Homo sapiens: one gene and its partner. The protein of the gene in region 2 interacts with the protein of the main gene of each other region in a pairwise test. Each region holds a gene or a part of one and is shown on either strand. Other genes may lie near its edges.

Region 1 (3,732 bases), on a different chromosome or scaffold from region 2:
AACTGGGAGAAGCTGAATGAAGGTGACACAGGACTCCCTGTACTATTCTCGCAACTTCCCATGAGTCTATAAATACTTCAAAATTTAAAAAAAAATGTTTAAGTGATGATATTCAATCACATTTTTCTTATTTTACAAATTACTAATATTTTAAGTAGGATCAAAAACATGGAACTAATATATTTTAAATTATTTGAAAATGTTTTTCATCCTTATCACATTTTTTTGTTAATGTCTTTTTTATTTTTTATTTATTTTTTATTTTTTTGAGACAGAGTTTCGCTCTTGTTGCCCAGTTTGGAGTGCAATGGTGCAATCTCGGCTCACCGCAACCTCCGCCTCCCGGATTCAAGTGATTCTCCTGCCTCAGCCTCCTGTGTAGCTGGGATTACAGGCATGCACTACCACGCCTGGCTAATTTTGTATTTTTAGTAGAGATGGGGTTTCTCCATGTTGGTTGAGCTGGTCTCGAACTCGCAACCTCAGGTGATCTGCCCGCCTCAGCCTCCCAAAGTGCTGGAATTACAGGTGTGAGCCACCACGCCCGGGTTAATGTCTTATTATGAACATAATTTATAGTATATAGTTTACAATAAATAAGCATACACATATTGGGAATGAAGACTCAATTTTTTATACTGCTGAAATAAAATTTTTGCAGACTTCTGTTACAGAGGCTACAAAATTCCAAGCTACTATCCCTCCCTTAAAATTTTTACCTTGGGAAGAACATTAGAACAGGAAAAATGTTAGAACAGGAAAAATACTAAACTAAGAATCAAAGCACAGTTCTTTTTTTGTTTGTTTTTTGTTATTTCCTTTCAAATCTACATCTGCAGAAAAAGAACAATTCTAAACAAGTCACAGTCTCATTCTCATCTATAAAATGCAGAAATTCTACTGTATCATTCCTAAGGACATTCTAGCTCCAAAAACATTAACTCTAAGGCAGGAAAAGGTGAAACAATGAAAAAATGCATGACAAACTGTAACTAGTATTTACTGAAAGTATATTAAGGGTTCAGTAGTATCAGGAATATTACATACAAGACATGGTCTAAATTGTATCAACACAAATACAGAAAAATGCATCTATAAAGATAATTTTACCTCAAAGAAAACAGATTAAGATCCAGTTTAAACAAAAATATTTAGGTAACAGACACATCTGGCTATTTTACAAGCAATCTCATAGTGCTTTAAGACTTTTAATATCTGCTCTTTGACTTACATTGTAACAATATACCAGTAGATCTAAGTATCCTAGTATACATGCTTAGGGTTTTGATGGTTCTTACAAGAAGTAGACTAGCAAGTCATTCTAACAGGAAAAACAGTTCTTCTCCATCCACTTGAGTTAGACTTAACAAGACAATTTTTAGAGGTTTATTATTCAGAGGAAGTTAAACATCCACAGGGTAGCATCTACCATCCTGTTATACCATCCTCGGCTATCCAGAAGCATCACTTAGCCAAAACAGAGTCAAAAACCAGAAAAAAAGCACGAGTCCTCTAAGCAGTAAAAAACAACAAGTCCCTAGCACTAAAGCTCCATGCACAGAAAGTCTTCTGGTTCCTCACCCAGAAGAACATGCTGTCATTTTTATCCACCATTCAGCAAGTACTGTATGGGGTTCTGTTCCCACAGCACACTGAAAACATCAAATTATAAAGAGGAGACTACTATGGGCAGGCATAATGAGAGCAAACAAAGAGATAACAGTTAACAATAAAGTAATAAGCAAATCAACCCCCAAAAGCAGACATGATTTAGAAAGGAATGGTTTCACCAACAAACAAAATATGATTCTCTGTACATTGCTGGCTGAGGACACTAATTGGCTAGAGTTCCTTTTGCAAATAAATTGTTGTGAGTTCACTGACATCCCAGACATACGAATGTCACTAAATCTATTGACTACTTAATAAGTAAGGTATAAGTATTAATAATGTATATGTACCATCTTTTAAGGTGGAAGGATGCAGATTATATTTTGAGAATTTTTTGTAATTGTTTCCATTAACTATACTTTACACTTCTACAGGCTAGCAAGTCTTTGTCTTTTTAAGATTATTTTGAACCTCTATTTTTGATAGTAATTCACTTGATAGTCACATGAGACCTGCCGGTAAAGGCCACAGTGAGCCGTGATTGCACCACTGCACTCCAGCCTGGGCAACAGAGCAAGACTCTGTGTCAAAAAAATAAATAAATACCTTTCTAAACTTGGATCTACATACATCAAGGGATGATGTACTTGAATCTACTCATACTATTTATACACATTGAGAGGGATCAAGTTACACAGGAATGTACATTTATTAAGATGCACATTCATCAAACTAATATTTTTAACCAGTATTATAGATGGCATAACCCATCTTAAGTTTTAAAATGGAAAAATAAAATTACAAATTATCTTTCCAGCATTCTTTACTATTGAACTAAATTAAATCACATCTGAAGCTTACCCTGAAATGAAGAGACCTACCAAAAAAAAAAAAAAAAAAAAAAAAAGCAGAACAAAACAAGAATTCTGAGAAGTGGAAATACTACACTGAAATCCATTCAGGCAACAAAGAACACGTGAGTGGTTTATATCCTAAAAAGCAAGGCTGCACTGCAGTAAGTAAACAAACTAATGTTCCTTTTTCATCAACTTTCAGATGCTTTTAACAACAACAACACTTTTAACCTTTCTGAAGTATGGACGCTGAAATAGAGGTGTATCTTACAACTACTGTCATCCAACAGTGGGATGTCGTTGGTGAAAACGTTCAGTTGATTCCTCCTGGAAAGATCAAGGAAGCACCAGCATCAAAGTGTCTTACATTTGATCAAAAATAGTCACTCAAAATAGTCTTAAAAAGACAAAGAAATGATCAGAAGCCTGTAAAAGTATAATCAACAGAGACAACTACAAAAAATTCTCAAAATGTAAACTGCATCCTCCTACCTTAAAATATGGTACATATAAATTACTTATCACACTACTTAGCAAGTAGTCAACAGATTATCTATCATTATTATTATAAGACGCAAGATAAAGACTAGTAGAGCTGATGAAAATATCTGTGATCATAGTGATCAGCCAATCAATAAGCACTTATTAAGGGTCTACCAAGTCACTAGCAATATGCAAGAGTAATGCAAATCCATCATGATCAATCTACGAAGCACTATTTTTTTAACCAGTAAGGGGCAAATGTCACATCACATTCATCAACGATTAGAACTAAGTACTTTTAACTTCCTTTAAAGTATTGCCCTTTATTTGAGTCCAGTCTGCAGAACTCGAAACCTAAATTGTTTACTTGAAAAGAGTCATCAAATGATTATGTTAGTATAAGGAAGTGTTACCAGAATGAGTCTAATGGTTTTCATAGGGGAAAAAAAAAATTTCCTATTATTCTCCAGGCTTAGGTAGAATAATGATGGGTTAAATTTTCTCTTAAAACCTTTCTACGGTGGCTCACACCTGTAATCCCAGCACTTTGGGAGGCCAAGGCAGGCAGATAGCTTCAGCCTAGGAGTTCAAGATCAGCCTAGGCAACATGGCAAGATCCTCTTTCTACAAAAAATAGCTGGGTGTGGTGGCACATGCCTGTGGTTCCAGCTACTCACGGGGCTGAGGTGAGAGGATCACTTGAGCCCAGCTGGTGGAGGCTACAGTGGAAACTGTAGCTGTGACTGCACCACTGCACTCCAGCCTGGGAAACAGAGTGAGACTC
Region 2 (3,500 bases):
TTTATAAGTGAAAAGTGCCAAGTTAAGAAAAGAAAAATTCAGACTCATTTCTTTGTCCCTTGATGAAATCCAGCCGTCCTCCCTCTCACCCACCCGCACTGTGCGTGAGTTTATGGGAAAGTCTGTCTGTGGTTCTTCTAAAAGGGAGGGAACAAAATATGTTTAGATGCCTGAGGGGTGCAAGAGGCAATACTGGGTTATTACTGGGAAAGAGCCCCAGGCCCTGGACAGATGGGGAGCCCTAGGGGGAGGGACATCCTCCACCAACCATTCTTACGTGTTATTGCCCCTGCCCTGAGCCTGAGAGCCAACTGCTGGACCCCCAGGTTGGGCTGAATCTTACAGAGGCCAGCCTTCCCTGAGCATCCACACTGTCAGGGTTCACAGTCCTGGGACTGCAGTGCAGAAGCAGGGAGGTGTCCCCTGGTGCCGGGATCCAGCTAGAGGCTGGCAGCTTGTATCAGGGCCAGGCGCAGCCTGGACTCTGCTGCCTCTTTGAAAACCAGGCCCTTGGCCCTCTGAGTCCTGGCTCCTGACTACTGAGCCATTCTTGCCTGGGGTAACAGTGAGGCCTGGCTGGGGGAAGGGAGGAGGGGAGTACCCACCTCGGCCCTGGGGCAGCGCACGGCCTAGATTGGATAACCCTGATGCCTGCCGACAGATCCAGGGCAGACACAGCCACCCCAGACGCTCCCATAGATCTCGGTGGTGTGACCTGTGGGCCAGGACACCACACATTTGGGACTCTCAGGAGACTTGTAAGAAGCTAATGGGGGCTGCTGAGGTTGGGAGCAAGGGCAGACAGAAGGGCATTTACAGGGTCCCGGGGCTCAGATAACTGAGGAGGCGCTGAGCCTGGGCTCCAACAGTCCAGGAGAGAGAGCCAGCTCTGGGGGCTGGGGCTGGCTTCTGAACGGAGGTGCTCATACTGGATAGAGGATGGATTCCAGGGAGGGGGAAGGAGGAGGGATGGGGAGTTGGGCATGAGGGTGCTACAGGGCGACTCTTGGGGTTACCTAAGTCTGGTGAGTTAGTCTCTGGACAGGAAGATGGCATCCTAATGCAAGCCTCCCTGGGTCCCATCGGTTTGGGGACCCAGGCCTGGAATGGGGCAAAGGGTGGAAGGCCCTTCCCTCATCTCCAGGGATCTCTCTCCTGCCCTCCCAGTGCATGAGCAGCCGAGCCTGCTAACCGCAGCTCCGCACTTGTCCATCCCCCTGCGGCTACACCATGTCCAGCTCCTACGATGAGGCCTCACTGGCGCCAGAGGAGACCACCGACAGCTTCTGGGAGGTGAGGCTCTCATGATCCCCAGGTTCGGGGACCAGACAGCCTGGCTGTTTGGAGGCCAGGCTCCCTTATCACTCACCCCATGACCTCAGGCCCCACTCCGCAGTCCCCCAGGCCCCTCCAAAGCCCTGGGTGTCCAACAGGCAGCGGTAGCCATGAAGTGGCTAAGAGCACTGCCCACTGAGCCAGGAGCTCCTCTCTCCCCACAGCTGCCCCCAGAGAGAGCCTGTGGCATTTCACAATGTGGGAACAGGCCCTTTGTGACTCTGTGGCACTTCCATCAGGCAGGTACAGCACAGCCTTTCTCAGCTGTTCCTATTTCCCTCGCTCGCCCCCCATCCTGAGGTGGGCAGGGGTGGAGCGCCGGACACAGAGAGAGGGAGTGAGCTCCCAGAGCCCCACGGGGCCGCAGAGCGGGAGGCACAGCCAGAAGCCAGCATTTTCAGAACCTTCGGAAATATTTGAGACCTGGAGAAAAAAAATTGCTATTGGCTCCGGAAACCCAAGACGAAAACTGCCAAACCTAAATTAATAAGCGTTTAATGAGATGTCGACAAAACATAATATTATGTCAAGAAGCTGCAGCTCAACTCAACGCTTATATGACTCTATATAAATATAATAGATTTAACTCGCAAAAACAAAATGAATAATTCATTCCAGCCCAAGTCCAAATTCTAAAAATCCTTCTGCATTTTGTGGCAGCAAGGAAATCATGTTTAAATTGGGGTGAGGGTGCGTGTAGACGGCGGGGCCTGAGGCAGGGTGCTGGAGCCTCCGAAAGTTAGTTTCCCTGGGGTGTTGCCGCTGCGCCGCGGGGCGGGGGGCGGGGGCGGGGGCGGGGACGGCGAGGCCGTAAGCGGGGAGGCGGGGCGGAAGACAGTGGGCGTGGCCGTGCTGGATGCGGCGGGCGGGGCTGGGGACGCTGGGAACCCGCGGGAGTGGTGCTCGCTGCTTGGCCGCCAGGTGGGGAACTACAAGCGGACCGTGAAGCGCATCGATGACGGCCACCGTCTATGCAACGACCTGATGAACTGCGTGCAGGAGCGCGCCAAGATCGAGAAGGCGTACGGGCAGCAGCTCACCGACTGGGCCAAGCGTTGGCGCCAGCTCATCGAGAAAGGTGCTCCCCCAGGCTCACATCGTGCGCGCCCCCAGGCCGTCACGAGCCCCCTAGGTCTGGGTCCTAGGAGCCCCGGCTACTTGCATGCACCATGCCCTCCATCTACCAGACACAGGACATTTTCAGGCGCTGTTCCCTCCTAGATCAAACCAGGCCTACCTGTTCATCTCTATTTTGTACAATTTTAGGTTGAATTAAAAAAAAAAAAACACTTTTTATCTTGAAATAATTCAAACTTTGTGAAAGTTGCAACAGTAGCACAGAGAATTCCTACATACCCTTCCCCCAGGCTCACTGGCCCCACGTTTTCTCACTGACTGTTTATTGATATGCATATTTTCTGAACCATTTGAGAGTAAGCTGGAGCCATTATCCCTGTTTACCCCTAAATTCTTCATGTATCTCCTAAGAACAAGAGCATTTGCTTAAGTAACCAGAGTTCAGCTATCAAATTTGGGACATGTAATACGACCCATACGCACATTTACCATGGCAATTGCGCTTGCTAGTCCAGGATCTAGTGCAGTCGCACATTGCCTCTATGCATTGTGTCTTCAGGTTCCTTTAATCTAGAACAGTTTGAAGTTGCGGTTTACATATACTTGTTCATGTTATTCTCTTGCAGTATACTCTAAACCCCATGAGAGCAGGGGCTGGGCCTGCACCACCTAACACAGTGCCCTGCACAGAGCTGGTGCCAGTACACAAACAACAAGTCAGTGTGGAATGACTGGTCCCCAGTGGCCTCTTGGCATCTGTCACAAGCTTCAGCTAACATTCCTGGAGCACCTACTGTGTGCTTGGCGCTGTGCTGGGCTTGTCAGAGCTCACAGGGTCCAGGCTGCCCCCCTCCGACCCCATTCCATGGGGCTCACATGCTGACAAGAGAGATAAGGAGGAGGGAGGTATGGCCGCAGATACTGTGAGAAGAATGCAGCGAGGGCTGCTGGCCATGGCAGGAGGGCAGAGCAGTCAGGGAAGGCTTCCTGGAGGTGGTGGCTGATGTGGGCCCTAGAGGATGGGGCCACGTAGAGCAGAGGAGGGCATTTCTGTTGCTATGAGAGGAAAGGGAAAGCCTCAGAGAAGG

What was found. Proteins that work in one complex are often made in the same cells at the same time.
Region 1: the proteins of PACSIN1 (region 2) and FRYL interact in a two-hybrid assay, tested with the Homo sapiens proteins (one large-scale study listed by IntAct).

Annotation. Positions count from the first base shown.
Region 1 is NC_000004.12:48,770,187-48,773,918, forward strand, and holds part of FRYL (protein furry homolog-like), read right to left. Parts: intron 1-3,732. UniProt on the Homo sapiens protein: Plays a key role in maintaining the integrity of polarized cell extensions during morphogenesis, regulates the actin cytoskeleton and plays a key role in patterning sensory neuron dendritic fields by promoting avoidance between homologous dendrites as well as by limiting dendritic branching.
Region 2 is NC_000006.12:34,525,076-34,528,575, forward strand, and holds part of PACSIN1 (protein kinase C and casein kinase substrate in neurons protein 1), read left to right. Parts: intron 1-1,167; 5' UTR 1,168-1,230; coding exon 1,231-1,293; intron 1,294-2,256; coding exon 2,257-2,413; intron 2,414-3,500. UniProt on the Homo sapiens protein: Plays a role in the reorganization of the microtubule cytoskeleton via its interaction with MAPT; this decreases microtubule stability and inhibits MAPT-induced microtubule polymerization.